4 linked regions of the Homo sapiens genome follow. The protein of the gene in region 1 purifies or fractionates together with the protein of each later gene. This does not show direct contact. Each region holds a gene or a part of one and is shown on either strand. Other genes may lie near its edges.

Region 1 (7,039 bases):
TTGATCCTTAGTTGCAAGCTCCTAGAAGGCAGGTGACGGCACACTTCTTCTCCAGTCTGGTATGGTACTTTGTACTCACAAAGCACTTAGTAAGTATTTTTTGGGATAGAATTCCAAAAGGACCGTTTCTCTAAGTTATATGACTACCATTCTTATGGACTAAAAGGTGCTCTTCAAGAGAAACGTTAATTGCAGTACTCACTGGAATTCGATTTCGGGACCTAAAAGTTGCAACTCTCCGGAGGTCATCATCTGAGGCACGATACGGAACCACCAAAAGAGCAGGGTAAGTGTCACAGAGCTCATAGCACTTATTAATAAAAGTTATTCTCCAATGGTGATTGGGCAAGCCCTGTGAGGAAAAAAAGAAATTCAAGTCAGTATTGCTTGACCTCATCTCTGGATTTGGCCTTGGGCCTCTTTTCTTCCTTCTAGCAATATGTGCACATGCCTCTTTGACCACAGGGTGATGACGGTCTACCTATTTATAATAAGGGTGCCAAATCAATAATCCAGACAACGTAAGAACACAAGACAAAACACTGGTGGTTTTTACAGTTCTAAACTATACTTTGTAAATACAGATTCTCTTGAATTCAAAGGAATTCGTCTTCCTTTATTTTGTGTCCACATATTCTTTACTACCTGTACCACACAGATAAACCCAAGTTCATCCCCCGCCCATGCACCCCTCCCATCCCCTAAAAAAATACCCTGCTTCATCTTAATCTGGCTCTAACTGAGGGTAGAAAAGAGATCAGGCAACTTCCTCTCCCTGCTCAAAATAGAGTGAATGCTTCAGTCTGCTCCAAAGTGGAAAGAGGCTGAGCTCATGAAGAAAATCATGAGGGGAAGTAAAGGAAGATCCCTCTGGGGAGGCTCATTTCGCCACCTCCGATGAGTTTTTTTTCAATCAAGTTGTTCGGAATCGATGATTGCCCTATAGTTTGTGTGAGAAATACAGTCATTTGCATTTTAAGCAGACTGCTAATGTGACAGGGAGACACAGAAGACACCTCCCATCCTATCATCTCCCCCACAAAATTGTATTTAGTATGGAAAAGATCCAGAGGTGGTGGAATATTCTCTCCCCATTCTCACAAATGCACAGATACACACACAAAAGTGAGCTATGTGGGTGTTTGCTTTGGGGACAGACATTGTACCTTTTCTTTAGGTCTGGCCCTAGAGACCACGGACCAAACAGATGTTGAGTCTGATGCTGAGTCCAATTAGACAGTTATAAGTCCCATCAGAAAGTTATAAGAAAAAAAGATTGAATATAATGGCAGTCTAGAACAAAATACCTTCAACAGTTCATATATGCATGCAATCTTAAAAACAGGAACTGTTTTGTTTCAAGCTAGAAGCTTTGAACTAAAAAAAAGTCTTAATGTTATCAGTAATACTTCAAAAAGAAGGTAAAAATATTTTAATACATCATTTACAGAGGTCTCCAAAACATGCAAAATGTTTTCATGGTCCTTCTTCCGCCTCAGTAGCTAGTCCAGAACTGAGGCCATTAAAATGGGAGTAGTGCAAAGCCTTAGAAAACTCAACAGTCTAAACGTGACTTATGGAAGCAACAGGATATACTATGTCACATATGTTCTAAAGCTAAACTCCTGCACCCAAATTCCAGAGCGTCAAATCTGTTCATGAATATGCAAACCGTTGATTAAGACTAAAAAAGGAAACCAATCCAGGTTTTTCATGGTGAAGGTGGTGACTAGATGGTTCTTCTCAAGTCTAGGGTTCTACGATTTTACTTTATATTCACTACCTTTTCATATAAAGCAAATGGGTTTGATCTGATTCTCAAATCTCATTCAACAAAACTTTTCAATTATCTTAAGAGCTTTGTAGAACAAGAATTGTGAATAATCCCATCACACAACTCCTAGCTGCCTACAGATTTGGTTATACCAGAGGTCAAACTGTGGCTCTTGTTACATATTATGCACAGAATTCCCTTAACAAAAATACTGCAAGAGACTTTTGTTCCTGAACAGCAATATGAGACCAAGCCTCTTGCCTTTATTATAGCAAATAAACATGCATGTAGGTGACATTCATATAAGAGAACAGTAAAGACAATTATAATGTACACTTATCAAAGCTTCCTTGAAAAAGACATCACTACAGGAAAACAGTTCTAATTCATTTGAATCTGCAAACTGAAATGAATATAATTTAAATCTAACTGCAGGTAATAGTTAAGCTCCCAAACATGCATATACATAGCAATATCAAGTCCTAAAGTGTAACTTCTAAAATGTTTGACTTTTCTAAATCCTAAGTATTTAATTCATTTCATAAACAACACAGAATTGATGCTCTTCATATAGGGAAGGAAATAGGATTTAGTGACCCAGTCTTCGATGCAGCTTGCATATGGCAATGGAATGAGCTTATAAGTTATACAGTAATAGATAGAATGAGATATATTGTACAAAATGTGGATAATATCACCACCATTGAAAAGATATTTAGCAAGGATGTCGCTGATTTTCAGAAAGCATGGCTGATGACATACTGTCATAATGCATGTTTCAGGTTCATCACATACCAGACAATAGCATCTAACATCTTACCTGCCTCCTGTATTCTTCCACTGGATTGTAAACTGTCCATCCATCCACGTTAAACTTTTCTTCATTTAAAAATGCAAATAATGGCTAGAAAAGGCAAAAAATAAATAAAGTTCAGCGTGAAGGAACAGTCTACTATTATAGTACATCTTTTGATTTCTCGCAAAATAAATTTCACCAGATTTGCCGACCATGAAATTACAACCCACACCAAGGCTTATAACAACAACAACAAAAAAAAACAGTGGAAAACTCAGATCAGACTTACGCTAACTTCTATCTTGAGTAATAGAAGCCTCAATTTTCTATGGCTATAAATCTCTCAATTGTTCTTTTAATGATGTTCCACAAAAAAATCAGATTACCAGACCAAAAAGTGCCTATCAATTTTAAACAGTATTAGCAATTGATCAGGTACAAGCCACTAAAAAGAAAGAAGGAAAGGAAGAAAAATAAAATTCAGGAATTATTGTTAAACGGTGCAACTGTCTCAAAAGGGAACAATGACATGTTTATTTTTTAAAAAGATAGGATATTAAGAAAACTCTGAGCTAACTGTTCTCTGTGAATTCTGAATCAATGCCCTGGTTTCTGTGAAATGGCAGGACTCAGACCTCTCACCTCTTCTCTATATATACTCACCCTCAACGTGCTGTTGATACATTTGATAGCTTCAAATACCATCCATACTCTAGTGACTAGTAAGGACCTATCATTCTCCAGCATCCCCTCTGAATTCCAGACTTGGCTATCCAAGTGTCCACTCTACCACCCCACCAGACTGCCTAAGAGGCATCTGAAGAACTCTCAAGTTAACACAACCAAAGCCAAACACTCTTGGCTCCCCCTACCCAGTCCTGCTCTTCCCACAGTCTCCCCATTTCAGTACATGACTTCCAGCTGATTGAGCTGAAAACCTTGGATTCATCTTTGTCACCACGTGGCTACCACCCAGGTCCAAGCCACCATCATCTCTTACTTGGTTGATTATAAAAACCTAACTGCTCCCCTGCTTTCATCTTTGTACTTCTCAAGTCAGAGTGACAGTGTCATAGGTCAGATCAAGTCCTTTCCTTGCCCCAAATCCTCCCGTAGCTTTCCACTTTGCGAGGAGTAAAGGTGGAAGTCCTTCCAATGGCTTATGCAGCTGTCTGCCATCTGGCCATCTCCCCCGCCACATCTCTGCTCTCAGACTCACTCGCTCCACGTAAGTCACACCTGCCTCCTGTGCCACTCCCTAAAGGCACCAAGCACATGCCACTCTCAGGGCCTTTGCGGCTACTATTCCATCTGCCTGGAATTCGTTTACCTCATGGCTTCTTGTCTTCTCTCACATCTCTGATCCAATAATCTTAATCAGTAAGACCTTCTCCGACACCCTACAAAAAAACATGTTACCCTCACAACAGCACTCCCTATTCCCATCTGATTTTCCCTATCACTTATGACCATTTGACATATTACATATGTACTTGTTCACTGTACATATGTACTATCCCCTCCCCTAGGACATGGGCTCCATGAAAGTACACACTTGCTTCATTCCCATCCTTTATCCCCAGTAACTACAATGGCGCCTGGTCAGAGGGAGGCAGAACACAGGCTCGCTGACCGAATGAAGACATGAAGGCCCACACAGCCCCTGTACAACCATCTTCTCTGGAGGCGCTGCGTCTGGGCACTTTTCCTCTATGTAGCTCCCTCCCCAACCATTTTCCTCTGTCATCAGACTAATCACTTTGAACACCAGTGTTCCCTCCCCTACAACACAGTGTATTTCTGGAAAAGCATCTTTCAGCAGCAACAGTTTTCTGCATGTGAATGGCAAGAGGTTTAAGGTGAAAACTGCCCAAGAACATGCTCTCCACAATGTCTTCTCAAACTTTCCCAGGCATGCAGCACACTCTGCAGGTCTCAACTCTGGCAGCGCTAGGCCCAAGTGCTGTTTATTCTGGATGGCTGGCATGATAAGCACACACTGGTAATGATGCTGACCTAGCTAAGCGATGCACTGAGGCTTTAACCTGACACTGAATCCACAGCAATGCATAATTATTCAGTACCACTGGGAAAAATAAGTGATTTCTGTTAAGTTTAAATTAAAGACAGAGGGACTTTGGGCGAAAATAGCACTAAAATGTTTGGTGCACTCCTTTATCCATAAACAGAATATATGGGACATGCCTAAGCATTCTCTTGGCAATATATCATTACTGTGAACATCTGATACTGCGCTGGTCAGTACTTGGCACAGGTAAACATTCAGGAATGTTGAATGATTTGAGTGATGTACTGTTAACATGGTTGTAGATGGTTTGAGGCCTAAGGCTCTACTGTCACTTTAAAAGAAAACCTAGAACTTGCTTTCTTGAAATAAGTTCCTGACCTCAACATGGTTTTTGTTCATTTGTTTTAGTTATTTGCATCTTTCCCATGAAGCTCAAGTGAATATGGCAGCTTTTAAAAACCAAAGAGAAAAATTCCTAAATTGAAGGCCCAGATAAAGCTTTCCTTCCAGAAAAAATCATCATGTGTAGTAATGCTATCAGCATTAACTTTCAAGCAGCATTTTCAACCTAAATTACTATTTTTTCAATCCCTAAGGTTAAAGCACCTTCTTTTTTTTGCTTCCAGTATTCCTGTATCTTACATGAAAATTTCTAAGTTTATAAAATTGTTATCAGAAAATCAAAGCTATATGGCCTAAACAAAAATTATCTACCTAACTTCCTTAATATGTTTTATAAAAGAACCTGAACAGAAGCAACATCAATTTTTTTTTGTCATTAGTATGAGACTGAGACAATGTCCCCATGGTAACCACACATCAGATGGACTCTCTGATGAGATCACTTCTATGATGATACTTCACATTCTGACTAATATCCAGAATGAGTCAACTAACTGGTATCCTTTAACCCGAAACATGTCTATTAGAATTGGTGACAAAAACAACTCCCAGTTTACTCTTGATGCTAAGAGCCAGGCTTGGACCCCAGATATTTCAGGAAGAATTATGAATCGCACAACAGCCAAATATTTCTCCTCGTGAAGCACATAGCAACACATCTAATATTAAATTGGAGCTTAGGGTAGAAAAGACTGGGTGCTTAAACCAATATTTTCACCATTCAAATAAATTAGCTTACAAACACAGAAAAACATTTTTCAAAAAGCATTACTAGGTAGTGTTTATGTGGTGTTTTTATTTAAAAACTAAGTTTTCCATAAGCTACTTGGCTCAATTGAAGTGAGCAGTCTGAAAGAGCCAATACCACCATTTTCTGAACTTGAAAGTACGAGGACCTACTTTTCAGATATATTTTCTTTTTTTCTTAAAGATTAAGAGAATATAGGCTCTCAGAGTAACATAAAGTTGGATTATTACAAAAACAAAAATAAAGCAATAACAAAACACATTCATCTGTACCTCATTATCAAAAAGCATAAAATCCCCTACAAGTGGTAACTTGTTACAAGCCTAATTAAAGCTCCTATTTCAAAATTGTTAAAACCTGAAGTGAATAGGTTATACGTCTTGAGGTTTTTAGCTGTCATTTACTTTCTCTTCCAGACAATGTATTCTTTAACACTTTATTAATGTGTTGACACTTTCAACTATTATTCTTAAATATAACCTTGGGTCAATTTTGACCCTTAATTTGGGAACTCTAAATCACATGGAGAGAGCTGGCTCTCAAGTATTTTCCACTATAACCATCAAGCGCGTCTTGTTTGCTAAATGGGTAATGATAAAGCTTACTCAATGAACACGTCCAAGTACTGATTTCATCGACTATGGAAAATTCAAGAACGATTCAGTCCCAATTGAGCAAAGTCTTAGGACAGAGAAGATGTTTTGCTGAGCATCACCTTTCAGTAGATGCTTCAGCAAGTCCTACGTGGCTTTCTTCTAGGGTGTGGTCCTTATCTACGGCTCTGCCTCAGAATTGGGGGTGAAGTGGGCTGCTTTTTCCAGAGGCTAAACCATGCCCTGTGCCCTGCCTCACCCCTACTGAATCAGAATCTCTAGGGGGTGACTTTCTACCTCCTTGGTCCTAGAAGGGCCATGTGGGATGTACCAGAACTCTCAGGAATGTAGCCTAAGGATTCTGTGTGGTCAAGCTGTTGGGGAGCTACTTTAGTTTGTTTTAGATTATTTTGAAATAATTATAGATTCACAAGAAGTAAATCTTCAGCCAGCCTCTCCAGGTGTTAACATCTTGTATAACTTTTAGCACAATATCAAAATCAGGAAACTGACAGAAGATACTCTCAAATGGCCACCCTCACCTTCCTCAAGTGAGCAAGTCATGTCTTCCTTAATTTTGCTCTATATTAGTATTTGGGCATTTCATCAATTCACAATTCACTAGATCCGTACTAGTCAAGAGATACTGTACATGGAGACTTTTTTTTTTTAAAGCAATCATGTGCATTGTTTCCGG
Region 2 (3,359 bases), on another chromosome or scaffold:
CACAGGTCATGCAAAGTCCTGCCACATTAAATTTCAGAAATTATTTGGTAAACCAAGAGCTACTCCATCCCTGACACTGTCAAAAAATAGCTATTGAGCATCTTAGCGCCCACAATATTACAATAGGACCAACATCTTTTAGGTCTTTTGAGGTCCTGAAGGCAACATATTCTTCATTTACAAACTTTACTTAAGCCCAAATATGCTGCTACTTGCAAATCATCTCACCTTGCATAGGGCCCTCTTTAACAAAAGGCTCTAAAATCTGTCTAAATTGTAGTACAATGCACATGCCCGTTAATGCCCTCCAGAGACTCCTTCATTGCAGAGACTTTATAATCTCTGTGCTTCTTGGAGTCTCTGGGCCACCCCCAATAGCCACTTTCCCTTAAATGTTATCCCATTCTCCCTGTGAATCATCAAAAGAACCAATCACATCTGGGTAGACTGACCCTCATGGTATCTCTAGGCTGATTGTAAACCTAGAAAAAAAAAACAATTCTGCACACCAGCTTATATTATAAAAGCATTTTATTGAACACATTCTGGAGGTAGTTAGAACCAAAACAAAATTTGGGATTGGGGTGGGGATTCTGTTTTGATGATTTAGATTTGGGAAAACTTTGGGTTCTCGTGTCAGCAGGGGCCATGCTGTGGGAAACCTGAAGGCTGATTTGAAGCAGAATATAGAACTGCGGCACGGGAGACCAGGGGCTGGGAATGGGGCTCTCCTGGGAACCAAAGAATGTGGTTCTGCAATTGGCTTGGTCTAGACTACTCTCCAGAAAAGGATAAAACATGGCTTGAGCAACTGCCTAGAAGAGGCAATCTCCATGGGCTGGGTTGCTGCACTTGGAAGGCAGTGACTTGCAGCAGGTTCTTAGCTCTTGAAGCTCTTCCGGGAGGAGGAGGTGGTGGAGACAAATTTGACGCTGGAGCTGCTACCCCCGCCACTGCCAAAGCCCACCCCCAGCCCTCGGCCACTGCTTGCACTGAAGCCAGAGCCCCCCACACTGAGCCCACCACCTAGGCCGACACCCCCACTGCTGCTGGAGTAGTAGCTTCCACTGCTACCTCCGGCAAGACCTCCACCGAGGCCGCCGCCAAGACCTCCACCGAGGCCACCGCCATAGCCACTGCCACTGCCATATCCAGAGGAAACACTGCTTGTGACAACAGCTGCAGGGAAAGGAGGGAGGACTCAGTGAGACCATCTGCCAGGCTGATCCTGCATGGCCCATTTATTTGATCTGCTGGTGTTGGAGCACTCTACTGGACCCCCTTTACAGAGTAGCAAACAAGGCCCGGAAGAACTGTCATTTAATTAAGGTCCCTAAAAAAGTGGGTGAGTGTAAGAGGCAAGGTGCTAGGTACTGAGAGGAGCTAGGTACTGAGGGGAGCTAGGTACTACAGGGAGCTAGGTACTGAGGGGAGCTAGGTACTGAGGGGAGGAGCTAGGTACTGGGGGGAGCTAGGTACTAGGGACAAGGCAGGGGACAGGGTCCAAGAAGCATAGGATGCATGGCTTACCCTTTAAGAGATGAGACATAAGCCACATTGCTTCCTGTCCCAATCTGTCCTTCCCCTCCACCACCCACAACTTACTAAGTGTATTATTATAAATAACCATATGCTGGGATGGGAAAAGTTTGGATCTAGAAACAGCAGAATTCTGAGTTGGCACTAAATATATCCCATATTATTGTCGTTGTTAATGTCTGTTCAAAGCTACTTACAGATGTTGACTGGTCCAACTCCTTCTCCACTGAGTCTGAAAGGGGAAAAATTGAATTAAGGGTTAACAGCTCCCAAAAAGACAGCATTAGTCTATGTGGCTAACTCCCATCCTCATGATTCGAGTTCATTCCATAAGCCAGGAGTCTGTACACCCAAAAGCTGCTTAAGTTAAAGGAAGGGAGAACTCTCCAGAGGGATTTTCCAATGAAGAGGGATTGACCTAGAAACAAGTTGTTAGGAAAGAATTATAATTCACATTCTTCTCCACCCACTATGGGGAAAGTATAAGAGATTTGGAAAATGTGATTATGTCGAAAGCAGTTTTTGCCTTGTAGGAGTTACATTCTGTGAGAGAACTTGGCACGGACAGAAATTCCTCCAACAGAAAGTAGGCAATGGGCAATGTCAGAGGTTGAAGCAAACAGTAGTTTGACAATCCAAAGGTAGCTGAGTTTAACTCAGCTGGAGTAAACATGAAAGCCTTCCTGAAGGAAGGGGTACTGGAGGACAAGGGTGGATGGAGGTGGGCATGACATGGATATTGAGGTTGAGCAAAGGACGTGAGCAAAAGCAGAAAAGGCACAAGTGTCAAGAAGATTGCTGAGTTGCTCAGGTGCTTGGAGGACAGCCAGTGCCCAGGAACACCGGTGGGGGAAAAGAGACCAGAAAAGTGAGTTGAGGTCAGCTATATGGCCATGAGTCAGACTGAAATAGTGTTGATGATGTGTCATTATCACGCACAAGTCACTGATCTCATGTATGTGTGTTGTACACCCCACAGTAGAGCAGCTTCGCTTTATCAGCTGAAGGCCATCTTGAGTTCATGCTGTCTACTCACCTGCATTCCTCGCCCTCCAGCAGCTTGCGGTAAGTGGCGATCTCCACGTCCAGGGCCAGCTTGGTGTTCATGAGCTCCTGGTACTCACGCAGCAGCCGGGCCATGTCCTGCTTGGCCTTCTGCAGGGCCTCCTCCAGCTCGGCCAGCTTGTTCCTGGCATCCTTGAGGGCCAGCTCCCCACGCTGCTCGGCATCCGCAATGGCGTTCTGCAGATTGGCGCACTACAGATAGAAAGGAGGAGAGTGGGGTTGCTTGGGACCTGAGGTGTCTCCTTCTGAGTTTCTGGGTCAGACAAACCAAACTATCATGAATCCCAGAGAGAAACCAGTACATCGTGGGTGGCAGGACACTGAAACACTGGTACTGGATCTAGCTGCGTGTGTTTAGCAAAAGTAAAACAAAATAAAACAAAGTAGGTGTTTCTTTTAGAACTCAGGCCCCTTCCTTGCCCTCTTTCAATCTCACCCTACCTGTTTCTTGACATTGTCAATCTCGGCTCTCAGCCTCTGGATCATCCGGTTCATCTCAGAGATCTCATGCTTGGTGTTGCGGAGGTCATCGCCATGCCGGCCAGCTGTCTGCTGCAGCTCCTCATACTGATGCAGCCAGGAAAGAGGAAAGATTCTGTTTATATGAGAATGGGAAGAACTTTCCCAAAGTTCACAGGCAGTGAGTACTAAGTGGTGGCAAATAGTGTGGGGCTGGTTCAGGCTTTTCCAAGGCTGAGCTAGTCTAGTGCCTTTGCTCTCCTGGAGACACTGGTGTGAGATTCAGAGTGAGATTA
Region 3 (7,039 bases), on another chromosome or scaffold:
AAGAATGCCTTTCTGCAAAGTGCTCAGACACATAAACAGTTCTGTTAATCACAGCTGCATCTACTCAGAGTTTCTAGGCTCCATTGACCCAGTCCAGTTTTAGAGGCTTTGCCCTGACACTGTCTCCTCTATCTTCACTGTAAATCTATGGGATCTCCAATGTCCTTTTGCAAAGGTAAAACTAGGCAGTGTGATGAAGGGCACCTCTCAGAGTCATGGGGCCAACTGTTGGCCAGCCTTGTGTAGGGCCAGCCTTTTCATCTCTTCTCCACTGAATGAGGCCTAATAATACTTCCCTGATACTACATCACTAGGGCTGATGGGACAAGCAGGCTGGAAGCTCCCAGGAGTGACGTATAGACTTGCAGCTGTTGCTAAAAGAGACGTCTGGGGAAAGTAGCCAGACGTGTGGGTGGGGTCATGTGGCCCAGTCAGGACAGCTGAGCAAGACTCTAGGTCAGTACTCACCAATATACTCATCCTGATCCACAAACCCATCCCCGTTCTTGTCGATGTCCTCCAGGGTTTCCTAGGAAGCAAAAGGTAAAACAGAATGCAAGATGGCCATGTGCTCTAAGAAGTCTGAGAATTCTATTGTCCTCATTTGTCCAGCTTTTACGGCTGAATGCTTGGTGACTTCTGGCTCATCGCCTTACTTCCCTGGGAACTAGTTTTTTATCTGTAAAAAACAGGCAATAGTTTCTGTTCCTAATCCCCCACCCCAGTTTCCAGAGCAGAATGCTTTCTTCAAAGCAAGCAAGATGTACCTGTAACCCCAGAGGTGCTCTGACGATATCAGGAGGCCCTGCCAGGCCAACTAACTCCACCATCCAGCCAAAACACCCACTGGGGAACATGCGAGAAACCCAGTGTGAGAACCACTGGATTAGATGACCACAAGAATAGACTCTAGTGCTAACAGGACTATGAATACTGAGTTGGTGTCAAGAGAAATGTGAAACAGTGGGCAACTAAAAAATAAAAGTATATCTGACTTTTTGATGTATTGTGCTCTGTATTTAGTATACTTGACCTCTTATTCAGTATTTTTTGATTGGGTCAATAATTAAATGAGTTTACTGTTCATTGGCACAGCAACTCAGAGGCATCCTGGGTCAAACCAAAGAGCCAACCTGAGAGCAGAGAGCCACTCCCAAAGGCTCGTAGTCTACTCGGGATCATTCACCACCTGCACTGTCCTCTGCCACATTAGCTAACACTACATGAATGTTGAGTGGTAAAGAGAAATGATTCTTGGAGCCACTGCCCAGTCCTTACAGTCATGGCAGTCAGGAGGATGAAGCATGAGTGGACCCTTCCACCACCTGGATAACTAAAACCATCCACAGCTCGTGTAAACAAAAGCTCTAGCCATCTGTTTCCCAGGATTGAAACAGTTGGAACTGGGTTGGTGCATCTGCCCAGGAAAACAGGTGATGGCATTTATTTAATTGTCATGGAAAATGAAGACATTTGGGACCCAACAAGACACTACGGAAAGCAACTACATTCTGAGGCCTTACAAGCATAGTCATTCCTCAAAGCCTAGGGCCTGATCCACCCACCCTCCAAAGACCCACCCGCTAAGGGTAGCATCTCTTCCAGCCATAATTTTTACTTTACATTTCCATACAGTTTTAACAATCCAATTCATTCCATTTCTGAGTCTTTTTCCAAGTCCCTTAAAATTGAAAAATGGGGCAGAGACTAGCTAGTTGCTCACTTAAGCCATTTGCTCTTTCTTTTTTTTTTTTTTGAGAAGGAGTCTCACCCTGTCGCCCAGGCTGGAGTGCAATGGCACGATCTCGGCTCACTGCAACCTCCGCCTCCTGGGTTTAAGCGATTCTCCTGCCTCAGCCTCCCAAGTAGCTGGGATTACAGGCACATGCCACCATGCCTGGCTAATTTTTTTTGTATCTTTAGTAGAGACAGCATTTCAACATATTGGCCAGGCTGGTTTCAAACTCCTGACCTCATGATCCGCCTGCCTCGGCCTCCCAAAGTGCTGGGATTACAGGCGTGAGCCACTGTGCCTGGGCCCCATTTACTCTTTCTAGGCACGTATCTAAACTGTATTTCCCAGCCTCTTCATATCTAGGAGGGACCAGTGGAACATACGTGAAGGGGATGTGTCATTCCCTGGCCGGAAGAGTAAACAAAGACTGTATCTTCTCATTCCCTCTCTTTTCCTTTGTCAGCCAGCTGGGTGTTGCCAGGATGACTTTGAAGCTACAAGATGGCAGAGCACAAGCAGGAGTGCTTAGAGGAGAACTGGGTACCCAACTGTGCTCAGAGAACAGCCCAGGAGGTCCATCTGGCTGGAACAAGCTTTGCTAGTGTTAAATGGCTACAACTGGGGGCTATCTGTTACAGCAGCCAGCCTGACCTGACTAATTTTCTGGGTAGACGGGGATTCCAACAAACTCTACTTCAGAGTCCTTCTCCAATTCCCTTCAGGCTGAAAAATCTTCTCTCTTTGGAAGAGACAAGATTTGGAGGCAGTTTTCTCCCTGGTCTCTTCCCAGCCCAGACTCTTCACTTATCTTACCAAAACCACAATTTCCTTCATATGTTCAAACTCTTCAGGATGCAGAAAGGCAGTGAACTCCTCCCGAGTAGCTGTCAGGTCACCATTGAGGTCTGCAGCTTTGAATCTTCTCTCATCACGTGGCAGCATCTTTTTAAAGGTGTGATGATCTGAAGAATCATGAAACTCTGCGGGGTTTCCTGCAGGATGTATGTATGCAGAAATGTTTTTAAACCGTGCGGTCAAGAAAGGCGTTTCCTGCCAGATCACTCATCCTGCATGCTCAAATGGTACATATAGGGAAAAAAGGTCCCGACCTACTGAGTTCTTTAAAACATTCTATGTCAGAATGCCTCTAATATCAGTCCCTTCAAGCCACCCCATAATCTAGGCCTCATGGCATATTAGGGGAATTACTGCAAGTGGTTAAGAGCGCAGGCTTTAGACTATATTACTGCCATACTTCTCTTTGCAGAACTCTACTTTCATCATCTCATTCTTAGATCTGGAACATACAGAGGCTCTTTGGTACCCAAAACATCTTGTCTCAACGCCGTGCCTGGCTTTCAAGATCTCCCCGATTCTGGCCGCGTGAGTGCATCTTTGGTTCTCCTTGGGCCTGTTTCTTTGCCAACCTCACCATGCACCCAGCAGGTCTGCACCCCGTGCCTCTGTAATCTCATTTCTCCTTCCTTCTCCCGATCTTGTTTGTCTTGGATCTAAACCCTTCCCATTACTGCATGCATTGCTGCATCTTTGCCCCTCCAGTTGACCCACCTTCTCCAAATATAAATCCATTCTCCAAGGCTCCAGTTTCCAAACCACCCACACCAGGAAGCCTTCCCTGACTGCTCCGGCCCACTCAATCCTTGCTATCCAGAATTAGGCAGCATTTTGAAAATATACCACAGACACACTTCCTTTCTGCTTTCTTCTCCGTGTGTGCATCTGAGACGAAGTTGAGATGGGGTCTCAATCTAAGGGATTTTTTTTATTAGCCCTCACAGCCCTTCCCTCCCACCTGTAACTTCATTCAGTGTAAGCAACTCAGTACATTCTGAGTTTACAGAGGAGGGTGTTATACAAGCAGGTTCTACTTAGGAGGCTGTGACATCTCCCTGAAGGGAGTGGATATGATAAGAGAAGAGAGAGTCTACAAAAAGCTTGTGATCTGGGCCCCCACTGTGTCATCGCTCCTGCAGCACCTCTTACCTAGGTAGTAACCATAGGTGGCTTGTTTGTATTCTTCCCAGGAAATTTTATCATCCTTGTCCCTATCATAATCCTTCCAGACTTTGGCGACATTATCAAAGATGTATCTTTTCTGCACCCGTTTGATCCAGGTTTTCAGCTCCTCAGTAGTGACAAAGCCATCCCCATCATTGTCGATTCGATCAACAATCTTCCTGCAGTACAAAAAAAAAAAAAAAGAAACCCACACACAGGCACAAGGCTGTTATATTATCAAGGCTTGTGTGATGCTGGTCCAGCAAAAGATCAAACACCTGCACAATCCAAAATGCACATACAACTACAACAGAATCAATGATCCAAGGAGGCTGGAAGGAATCTTCAAGTTTATCCTTCCAAGGTTGATGTGCTTTCCCCCAACCAGTGCTGATGGCAGACACTGCTAATGGATCGTGCCCCTCTGTCCTGATAAACCTAGAGGTGCTCTCAGAATTCTCAGCACTGTGCTCTGGTGATGGCCATTATCAACGGATCAGAGCTGATCTGTAAGATGAAACCTATTAATCTTCCCTGCTGTAGTCCAGCACCCTCATTTTGGAGTAACGGAAACTGAGGCCCAGAGAAATGGAATAACTTCTAAGATTACACAGCCAGTATTTGGTAAAACTGGGGTGAGAACTCATGTCTTCTGGCTTAGGTCCAAGGCAAAAAGTGGAAACTGTATGTAAATCAAAAGATAAGTGATTTTTTTTTTTAAATCCCACCACCATGGATACAAAGACTTGAAACGTAAAGCAAGAAGACACCAGATGGTGGACACAGCACAAATGTCAGGGCTGAAGGAGCCTTGACATCATAGAATCTATTCACAAAACTTGACCAGCTGATCCGCTCTAGGAACCTTAAACCCTCTGCTCTTAGGGTAAAGACTCCTATACCAGCTCCACAGCTGGCCTAGGTTTCACAAATTTCCCACTGAACTCCACTGAGGTACCCTAAATGCTAGCCCAGAGCAAACTTCAGGCTGGGAACCCACTTTTGTCATCTCTAGACCAGATGGTCCCAAACCAGGACAGCATCCCAGTGGGGAACTTCAAAAACACCTCCAAGCTATCCCCAGTGTTTAAAAAAGTTTCACCCTTGTAGTCCATTTATCTGGGAGGAGGTCATACAGGCTAACTCTAGATTTCTTTCTTTGTTTTGGGCTGGAATTCTAACAGCTTCAGTGGTAAAACTTTCTTGTCAACAGACATTCTGAGTGGCAATTAATCTTTAATTAATAAAAAATGGGAAACAAATTCATCAGTTTGATAGTTTGACAGAGAAAATCTCCTATAACTTTTTTTTAGGTGGGGGAGGGTGTACACGAGAAGGGGAGGAGTGAATAATCAATGTCTCCACCTCCTACCTGAACCCAAGAACCCAAGCTCCTCTTTCTCAGGAAGGTGTAAACATCACCAACAGCTTGAAAGTACCCCTTCATTTGCAAGTTTAACAGGTCTCAATCCTAAAAGATAGGCTGGATCTGTGATCCCAGTGCTTCAGGAGGCTGAGGTGGGAGGACTGAGGTAGGAGGCCAAGAGTTTGAGAGTAGCCTGGGCAACATAGTGAGATCCTGACTCTACAAAAAATTTAAAAATTAGCCAGGAATGGCCGGGCATGGTGGCTCACGCCTGTGGTCCCAGAACTTTGGGAGGCCGAGGCAGGTGGATCATGAGGTCAGGAGATCCAGACCATCCTGGCTAACACGGTGAAACCCCGTCTCTACTAAAAATACAAAAAAATTAGCCAGGTGTGGTGGCGGGTGCCTGTAGTCCCAGCTACTCGGGAGGCTGAAGCAGGAGAATGGCGTGAACCTGGGAAGCTGAGCTTGCAGTGAGCCGAGATCACGCCACTGCACTCCAGCCTGGGCGACAGGGCAAGACTCCGTCTCAAAATAAAAAAATTAGCCAGGAATGGTGATGCATGCCTGTAGCTCCAGCTACTCAGGAGGCTGAGGTGGGAGGATTGCCTGAGCCCAGGAGGTCGAGGCTGCAGTGTGAGCTATGACTGTACCACTGTAAACAAGCCTGGGCAACAAATCAAGACCCTGTCTTTAAAAAAAAAAAAAAAGACTAAAACATGAAACTTCAAGTGTCTTCAGGCTTCTTCCCCCAGGAAATCATAGCCAGACACAGCAGAATTCTTTTAACATTGTGCAGTGTTGAGCCCAGTTATGTGCCAAGCACTGCTCTGATCCTGGGGACACAGTGGAGACATGCCAGTGGGTTACCCAACGCCAACTGGGAAACATAATCTCAGGGTAATGACATCAGACTCTACAATCCTCTTTTGTGGAAAGGACAGCATCTAATCTATGCCAAATAAACATCTAGGACATAGCTCAGCCTGACAAATATTAGGGACTCAATAAATATTTGTTGTAAGAATAAATAAGATCTTAACCTTCTCTTTAACAATGTCAAGGGAGATCCTGGGAAAGGCAGCTAGGATGGAGATGAAGCCTAGCACTTTCATCAGAACACCTGGATCCCCGTCCTGCCTCTGGTCCCCATTATCTGCGTGATCTTGGGCAAGTGTCTTGACTCTCTGAGTTTCCCCATCTGTAAACTGAACACCTACTTCACAAGGAATGTTGTGAGGAATAAAGGAGAGAATGCATGCTTTTCCTCACTAAAGACAATAATCTAGATCAGTGGCTGATGGTAGCTGCTACACAGTAGCCATTCGGGTGTTTGTTGCATGAATAAATGAATGAAGTTAAGGTGTTGATGCAAGGAGCAAACCCAGACCAACTCCATCATCATTTGTTCTCAACACCAACAGGTAACAGAATGAGCAAAACCTTTTGATGGGACCTATGGCCACTTGGAGGTACCCTGCTAGCCGCCAAATAGGGCTGGCCGACTCTGCTGCAGACGATGACTGACACATGGGAATAAAGGTGTCAAGAGAAGCCAGATATGGGGGTCTGTATGTGAAACCATTCAAACTTTAAACGTGGGCAAGTAATTTACACTGTGTCGCATATTTATGAATGCATGCAGCCTACGGGTTCCCACTTTGCAACCTCTGGTCCAGGTGTCTTTAGGGGCCTTAGAGCTGTCACATTTTCAGGACTGACAGGTGATGGTGACAAAGTTGCCTAGATCCAGCCACACTCATTCCTCCTCAGCCCAATCTTGGAGGGGACCACTGAAACAGAAGCTTTGGACAGAGGGGCAGCTTCTCACACTCAGCCCCATCCCAAACAGGACCCATAATTTCCAGCACCTCCTACCCCGCCTCTACCCCACATTTAACCTACAAGTGAATGGTGCA
Region 4 (7,039 bases), on another chromosome or scaffold:
TCCTTAGGCCAATGGTACCATAACTAGACTCGTTAAAGTAGATGAGTGAAAACTATCAATGAAGTAGCTGGAGCTACCCATTCAAGTCTGTAGTTTCTCTCATGTTTCATTTTGAAAACATATATGCTTATATACCGTTCTTTTCCACTATGTTTAATTTTTAAAAGTATTATAGAACTAATTAGGAATTAGATGCAGCTTATTTTATAATTGTCAGTCTCTTGAATATACTACTTCAGACCTCTAAAGGTTGAGTACCCAGGTTGTAAAGCTCAGCCTTATATCAATTTGGTTACAATGAAGGTATATATTCACAATCAGATTGACAGGGATTAATCTCACTGCCACTAATGGGAAGGATATTAGATGTGACACAGTTATAAAACCAAGAACTCCATAATATAAGTTTTCCTTTTCAATTGTAGTTGCTAGTTCATTTATACAATTTACATATATGGAGAATATAGTATTTTTCCTGCATAAAGAAATGCAATTGTTTTTAAAAGTAATAATGAACAAACTCACCAATGTTTTCTTCAGATAGTCTTAAAATCTCCTGGAACTGAGGTTTTACCTAAGCAACCCAAAGAGAAGATTCAAAAAGTCTCAGGTTCAATGGGCAAATTGATTAAATGAAATGTTTACTACTGTTGCTACTACTATTCATTTATTTATTTAGCTTTATAGATGACTAAGTTAAGTGGTCAGAAATGTAATAATTCTTAATCATGAGGCTTAGGATAGAAGAGTCAAATTAATGAAAATAAAAACTTTAAGGATAAATTTTTGAAAAAATCAACTCAAGTCAACAAGTGAATGGCCTCTGGTTTCTTTTATTAAATTAAAATAATTTCCAATATGATTTTAAGTGGTTGAAATTACTGCCTTCTAAAACTGAACTTGGTTATAGAAGGATTATTTAGGTAGATATTACATGGTTAGAATTATCGAAAAAAGCATTTGCCTGTATTTTTAAAAAACGAAAAGGAAATTCCAGTCACTTCAGGTGTTTAGTAAGTAACATATTCATCCTGTGATATTTATGTTCATCTTTTATTACAACTTTTCAAATTGAAATATGAAATACAGAATTTAACTTTAATATGTTAAGTTAGAACAGAGGTTTGTTTAAATTTTTTATTATTAAAATTATCACAGATTTCAGGCCACTGAAGACAACCACTTACTGTTAAGTACATAAGTAGATTCCTACTTGCTTTTCTAAAAAAAAAAATAGCTACTTGTTTTGGAGATATCAAACAATTTTTGCCAATATTGATAACAGGAAAATCAAATTATATTTGTTTAACAACTGAATGCTAGTGAAAAATACAAAATAATTTTAATTTTCTTTTTCCTACAATAACATCAAGGTCTGGTTTTTGCCCTCCTCTCTGTAGGTGAGGCACATTAATTTATATATTTAGCTTAAACTGAGAGAAAGGCCAATGTTAAAAGGTTCATGTACTGAATTGCGCTAAGAGAATTAAAAGACACTGAAGCAAATTCTTCATTTCACACATGAAAAGACTAAGCCCACATAATTTAACTTAAATAGTAAAGATCATAAACATTAGTCAACAGATAATAGGACCATAACCCAAGTCTTCTGAATTTTGTCCAGTTCCTTATAGCATACTATTTACTTTAAATGTTTCAACTATAGATTTAATAGTAAAGAGCTACACTAAATTAAATTTAATAATTAAAATGCTTACCTTTTAAATGTGTTTATTAACATTTGATTATAGAAACTACACCTTTTTATGTTTTTATTAGCTCTCTAAAGTACTGGCTTAACAAAATGTTATGAAGACAAATGGATTAATAGGATTAATGAATAAATTAGGATCTAATGACATTCCAATGTTAATATTTGAAACTACAAAATAACCTGGATAGGCAAATGTGACAAATGATACTTTTGGTAATGACTGAAACATGTAGAATTTATCTCCAGTGTCCATGCTATTCTAAGAGGTGGCATCTTCGCAGCAAGTTTTATATATAAGTTGCTGTGGTTCCATAATCGCTTGAGGTTTTTACCAAAGTGTGCTGAGCAAACAGCTGCTTCCTGAACCTGTGATAGACAGTAAGTACCAGCAGCACATTCAAAGGATTGTGGTTGAGTTCCCTAGCTGACACTTCCTATATTGAAAATCTTTGAGGATATCTACAATGAGTAAAGCTTATATCCAAGTCTGGATATGAACTAAGCTTAGGCTAAATCATCTTCTGAAAATCAGTAAAGATAAGAATATTACCAACTAGAACTTTTTTTTACTATCATAGTATTCTAGGATATTAAAGAAGCGAATTAGATAAAAGAATGGTTCATGCTTTTATTTACCCTGTTACAGTGTTAACACATTACATTTCTATGTCTTTTTCATATAAGAAAACATGGAATACAAGTTTTTACCTTAGTGTTTGTAAAAATTTTGCCAAATGTCCGGCAAAGGCGCCAGAAAAATCTGGAGAATTCATGGACACAGGCAGTTGAAGTAACATTAATTTTGCCAACTATTTCTATAAGTTGTGGCAACCTGAATATGAAAGGAAAGAAAAATAGGCAGGGGATACATATAAATTACTGTTTCCTTGCCAATTTCTGAAACAATGCAAATCTAATAACCTGTTCTATTTCGTTCTTTGAAAGGAAAGGCATTGTCTGGGACCCTCTGAATAGGTTGTAAGATTACATTATACTGTATAGACTTAAAAAAGTAAATTTTAACTGTTTGCCAGAAAATATATGAAACCTTAATGGTAGAATTCCGAGTACAGAGTTAATGTGACTCAAATCTATGGATCTGATGCTTCACACAAGAGCTTGGCTTTACATGGCATCATTTTAGCCTCAAAAATGAGAAGTCTAGATGTAGTTTAAAATCCATCACCACGATTGGACAAACAAGATGGCAGATAGATCATTCGGATAAAATACAGCAACATCTTCTTCTCAGATAAATTACATATCCAATGGTGTGAATCCTCTGTGTCCTAAAGGTGTTTACCAAAAATGATGCCGAGTTACATTTTAAAAGTTTTGTTATATTTTGTTCTTAGGGCCAAGGCTAAATATAAGAGTTATCATCTATTCAAATTAATATGGAGGTGGTAACTTACAATTGATTGACAACCCACAGTAAACTCTCCCAGCCTGTTGTACCCTCTTGTTCTAGCTGGTAGTCATAAAGTTGCAGCAGCACTGCCAATTGCTCACGACTTCCGATAATAGTGGACACATCTTGAAGAGGCGACATAGGCCGAGGAAACCTAGTCACTACACATAAAAGAAGCAAAATAAATCATATGGAAATTGGCATTTTGGGAACTTAGATATTCTGTTGAAAGGAAAATAAGGTCCTTTCTCCTCATATTTAATTACTTTCTTATTGTAAATTTTAAATATAAAATTGAAATACACTAATTAAGTCATTTTTAGGAAAATCAAGAAATTCCTGTGATATGAGAACAAATCCAACAAATCTCAAAAGATTTTATTCCCACAGCAGAATGTAAGCTCTATGAGCAGAAATTTTTATCTATTTTATTCATGATTGTGTCCTAAGTGTCTAAAACAATGCCTGACATAAATATTTGTTCATGTTGTGTAATAAATTGGTACTAAAAATATTTGTGTGGGTTACCATTTTTATGAGAAAACAAATCTTCATTCATAACAAATTATAACCCAAATTTTATGTGTGTGTATATATAAACGGACATATAGACATATGGATATACCCTAAATAAGGATATAATAAATCCTTATTTATAATAAATACATTATAACCTAAATGAAGGTATAGTAACATTAACATTTATAGCTACTGTTAAAAGTCAGAAAGTTAAACTAAGTCAACAAGAATGAAAAATAAAGGACAATCACAAGAAAAGGTCACATAAATGTTAGAAGGGAATCCCATAAGTATTAGAAGGATATGTTCAGGATGATACTGTTCTATCTAATCTCCAGCATATGCTTGGCAATAGATGACATTTAAGAATCATTTGTTAAATAAATGAGAGAATGATAACAAGTATTATGAGTTGAACTGCCCCCCGCCCAAATTTTTATGTTTAAGTCCTAACCTATAGTATCTCAGAATGGGATCTTATTTGGAAATAGGGTTGCTGTAGATGTAGTTAGACAAGATGAAATCATACTGAAGTAGTCGCTTATCCAACACAACCGATGTCCTTATAAGAAGGGAAAATCTGGACACAGAAACAAGCACACAGAAAGTGTGCCACGTGAAGATAAAGGCAAGGTTTGGGGTGATGCATCTAAAAGCCAAGAAACACTAAAGAGTGCCAGCAAACCACCAGAAGCCAGGGGAGAGCCCAGAACAGCCTTTACCTCGCAGTTTCCCTAAGACTACCCTGCCAACACCTTGATCTCAGACTTCTAAAATTCAGAAGTGTGAGATAATAAATTTCTGTTGTTTAAGCCACTCAGTTGGTGGTCCTTTGTTAAGGCAGCCATAGTAAACGAATACAGAAAGCTAAAAAGAAAAAGGGAATTAGAAAGATAGGAAAATCCCTAGGCAGATGAAATGCCTAAATGAGTAAGAGTAAAGGGGTAGAACCTGAAGTGGCCAGCTGGGAGAGCTTTATGAAGTCTTATCTAAAGTCTGAATTTTCATTCTCCTCAATTTAAAAATGTTAAATTAACTCCACACCATTCATTCTCAATTTTCCAAATAAAACTGACATCCAAATAGTATACACTATTTTTATCATGTGGCTTCATGTATCTTTGGACACACTGCATCATACTCCAAATATTATAGGTAGCCTACAGTTTACATGAAAAATGAAATTCAAGAAGATTGTCTGTTGATGTTCTCAATGTTATAATTCTTTGTCCATTAGACACCAGTAAGAGACATGGATAATTTCACAACTCTGAAAAGGCTGCAAAGGTGCCTGATACATAGCAATAGCTTGTCTATAGCCATTTGTCCTGGACGTTAAGGTGCAACAGGGTTATCAATTGCCTGTCAAGTTTCAAAGGTCATTTACTAGCTACTCGGAGAGTAAGATAAGAAAATACTGGCCTCTCCTGTCAATTTTATGTACTTCTGAAAGTAAGTCACATTTCTTCTTTGGAAAAACACAAATTCTGCCACAGATGCTTTTATATTTCTTTCTATCAAGGACATAGTAGAAAAAAGTAATTATATTTACCTTCCTCTATTAAAAATAAAATTAAAAAGTTGGGGAAGAAAATATAAAGAAAGCAGAAATGACAAGCTTCATATACTGGCACTAGTAACTATTAAAAGAATCTTTTGTTGACTCAGATCTATTAACGGAAGGAAATATTTATTTCAGCCTCCCCAGAAAGGCTATAAAAAGGCTATAGATTAAGAGCAACAAGAAAGTATAAGTATTATAAAATAAGACAATGGGGCTTATCCATAAAAGATGAAGCCATATTGTTTACCATACGTATAATCTTATGACCATGAGATTCTACACACATAATACATTTTAAAAATTATGCTGTCATATAAAGTGATTTTTAGACTTTTAATAAAAAACAATTCTTTGGGAAGCTAGGCTGCTAATATTCTACATTTTTCTTCCAGAATTTAAGTTCAGTACCTTCTATCTGTGGCACTTCACCATGAAGCTTGGCTTTGCTGGAGAAAGGTGCATTCTGTAGCACTAATGCAAAGAGAGATGGGATCAAGGACTGCAAGGCAGAAAGATACATGTGGAGTTTGTGTTCATCCAGTCCATGTTCTCCTTCCTGAAACATAAGGAGGTGGAAGCTAATTTTAGTCTTTTGAAGTTACATTGCTAATTGGATTTATGTATGATGTTCTTCCTTACTGTGGCAAATCAAAGATTTAAGGACCTTTATGTTGGACTCAAACAAGCAGTAAGGCACTCTAGAGTGGTAGAATCTTTTACATGGAAAACTATAGGGTAAACATCAGTCATTTCCATTTGTAGGGAATAGTTTTTGTAATTTTACTTTTTCATTAGAGAAGGTCTTATCTTTTGAAATTTTATAAGACAGGGTAAAGAAATTAAAGTAAGGGACAGGAATCACTTTATCTTTTTTCTTGTTAGAATTGATACATAAATAATTGTACATATTACGGGGTACCATGAGATATTTTGATACAGGCATACAATGTGTAATGATTGAATCAAGGTATTGAGATATGCATCACCTCGAACGTGTATCATTTCTTTGTGTTAGGAACATTCCAAATTTTCTCTTCTAGCTATTTTTCAAATATATAACACATTATTGTTAACTATGGTCACCCTACTGTGCTATCAAACACTAGAATGTATTTCTTCTATCTAACTGTATTTTTCTGTTCATTACTCCCCCAGACCCCAGCTTCTGGTCCATTTCATTCTTTACCTCCTTGAGATCAACTGTTTAAGCTCCCACATGTGAGTGAGAACATTCAATATTTGTCTTTCTGTGCCTGGTTTATTTCACTTAACATAATGTCCTCTAGGCTACCTGCTGCAGCAAACGACAGGATAGCATTCTTTTTTTAATGGCTGAATAATATTCCATTGTTTATATATACCATATTTTCTTTATCTATTCATCTACTGATGGACACTTAGGTTGATTCTATATCCTGACTATTATGAATAGTGCTGTAAGAAATATGTGAGTGCTTGAAACTCAACATGTAAGTCCTTGAAAGTATATATCTTTTCAATATACTGACTTCCTTTCTTTTAGATATATACCCAGTGGTGGGATTGGTGGATTACAGGTATTTCTGTTTTTAGTTTTGTGAGGAACTTCCACACTGTTTTCCATAGTGGCTGTACTAATTTACATTCCTACCAACAGTGTACGAAGGTTCCCCTTTCTCCACACCTTGACCAGCATCTTTTTTTTTTTTTTTGTCTTTTTAATAATAGTCATTTCAACTGGGGTGACATGATACTTCATTTTGGTTTAGATTTGCATTTACCTGATGATTAGTGATGTTAAACACTTCTTCATATAACTTTTGGCCATATGTCTTCTTTTGAGAAGTGTTTA

The links.
Region 2: the proteins of MTM1 (region 1) and KRT5 purify together in Homo sapiens (affinity purification with mass spectrometry; 2 studies listed by BioGRID and IntAct, with this or other methods). This does not show direct contact.
Region 3: the proteins of MTM1 (region 1) and RCN1 purify together in Homo sapiens (affinity purification with mass spectrometry, with the first as the bait; 2 studies listed by BioGRID). This does not show direct contact.
Region 4: the proteins of MTM1 (region 1) and RELCH purify together in Homo sapiens (affinity purification with mass spectrometry; 2 studies listed by BioGRID and IntAct, with this or other methods). This does not show direct contact.

Annotation. Positions count from the first base shown.
Region 1 is NC_000023.11:150,634,582-150,641,620, reverse strand, and holds part of MTM1 (myotubularin), read right to left. Parts: exon of another isoform or gene 2,860-7,039; intron 2,679-2,859; coding exon 2,595-2,678; intron 353-2,594; coding exon 203-352; intron 1-202. UniProt on the Homo sapiens protein: Lipid phosphatase which dephosphorylates phosphatidylinositol 3-monophosphate (PI3P) and phosphatidylinositol 3,5-bisphosphate (PI(3,5)P2). Has also been shown to dephosphorylate phosphotyrosine- and phosphoserine-containing peptides.
Region 2 is NC_000012.12:52,514,062-52,517,420, forward strand, and holds the end of KRT5 (keratin, type II cytoskeletal 5), read right to left. Parts: intron 3,172-3,359; coding exon 3,046-3,171; intron 2,797-3,045; coding exon 2,576-2,796; intron 1,772-2,575; coding exon 1,737-1,771; intron 1,180-1,736; coding exon 881-1,179; 3' UTR 514-880; downstream 1-513. UniProt on the Homo sapiens protein: Required for the formation of keratin intermediate filaments in the basal epidermis and maintenance of the skin barrier in response to mechanical stress.
Region 3 is NC_000011.10:32,094,038-32,101,076, reverse strand, and holds part of RCN1 (reticulocalbin-1 precursor), read right to left. Parts: intron 3,934-7,039; coding exon 3,740-3,933; intron 2,728-3,739; coding exon 2,549-2,727; intron 530-2,548; coding exon 469-529; intron 1-468. UniProt on the Homo sapiens protein: May regulate calcium-dependent activities in the endoplasmic reticulum lumen or post-ER compartment.
Region 4 is NC_000018.10:62,260,236-62,267,274, reverse strand, and holds part of RELCH (RAB11-binding protein RELCH), read right to left. Parts: intron 5,765-7,039; coding exon 5,617-5,764; intron 3,287-5,616; coding exon 3,130-3,286; intron 2,547-3,129; coding exon 2,423-2,546; intron 575-2,422; coding exon 526-574; intron 1-525. UniProt on the Homo sapiens protein: Regulates intracellular cholesterol distribution from recycling endosomes to the trans-Golgi network through interactions with RAB11 and OSBP.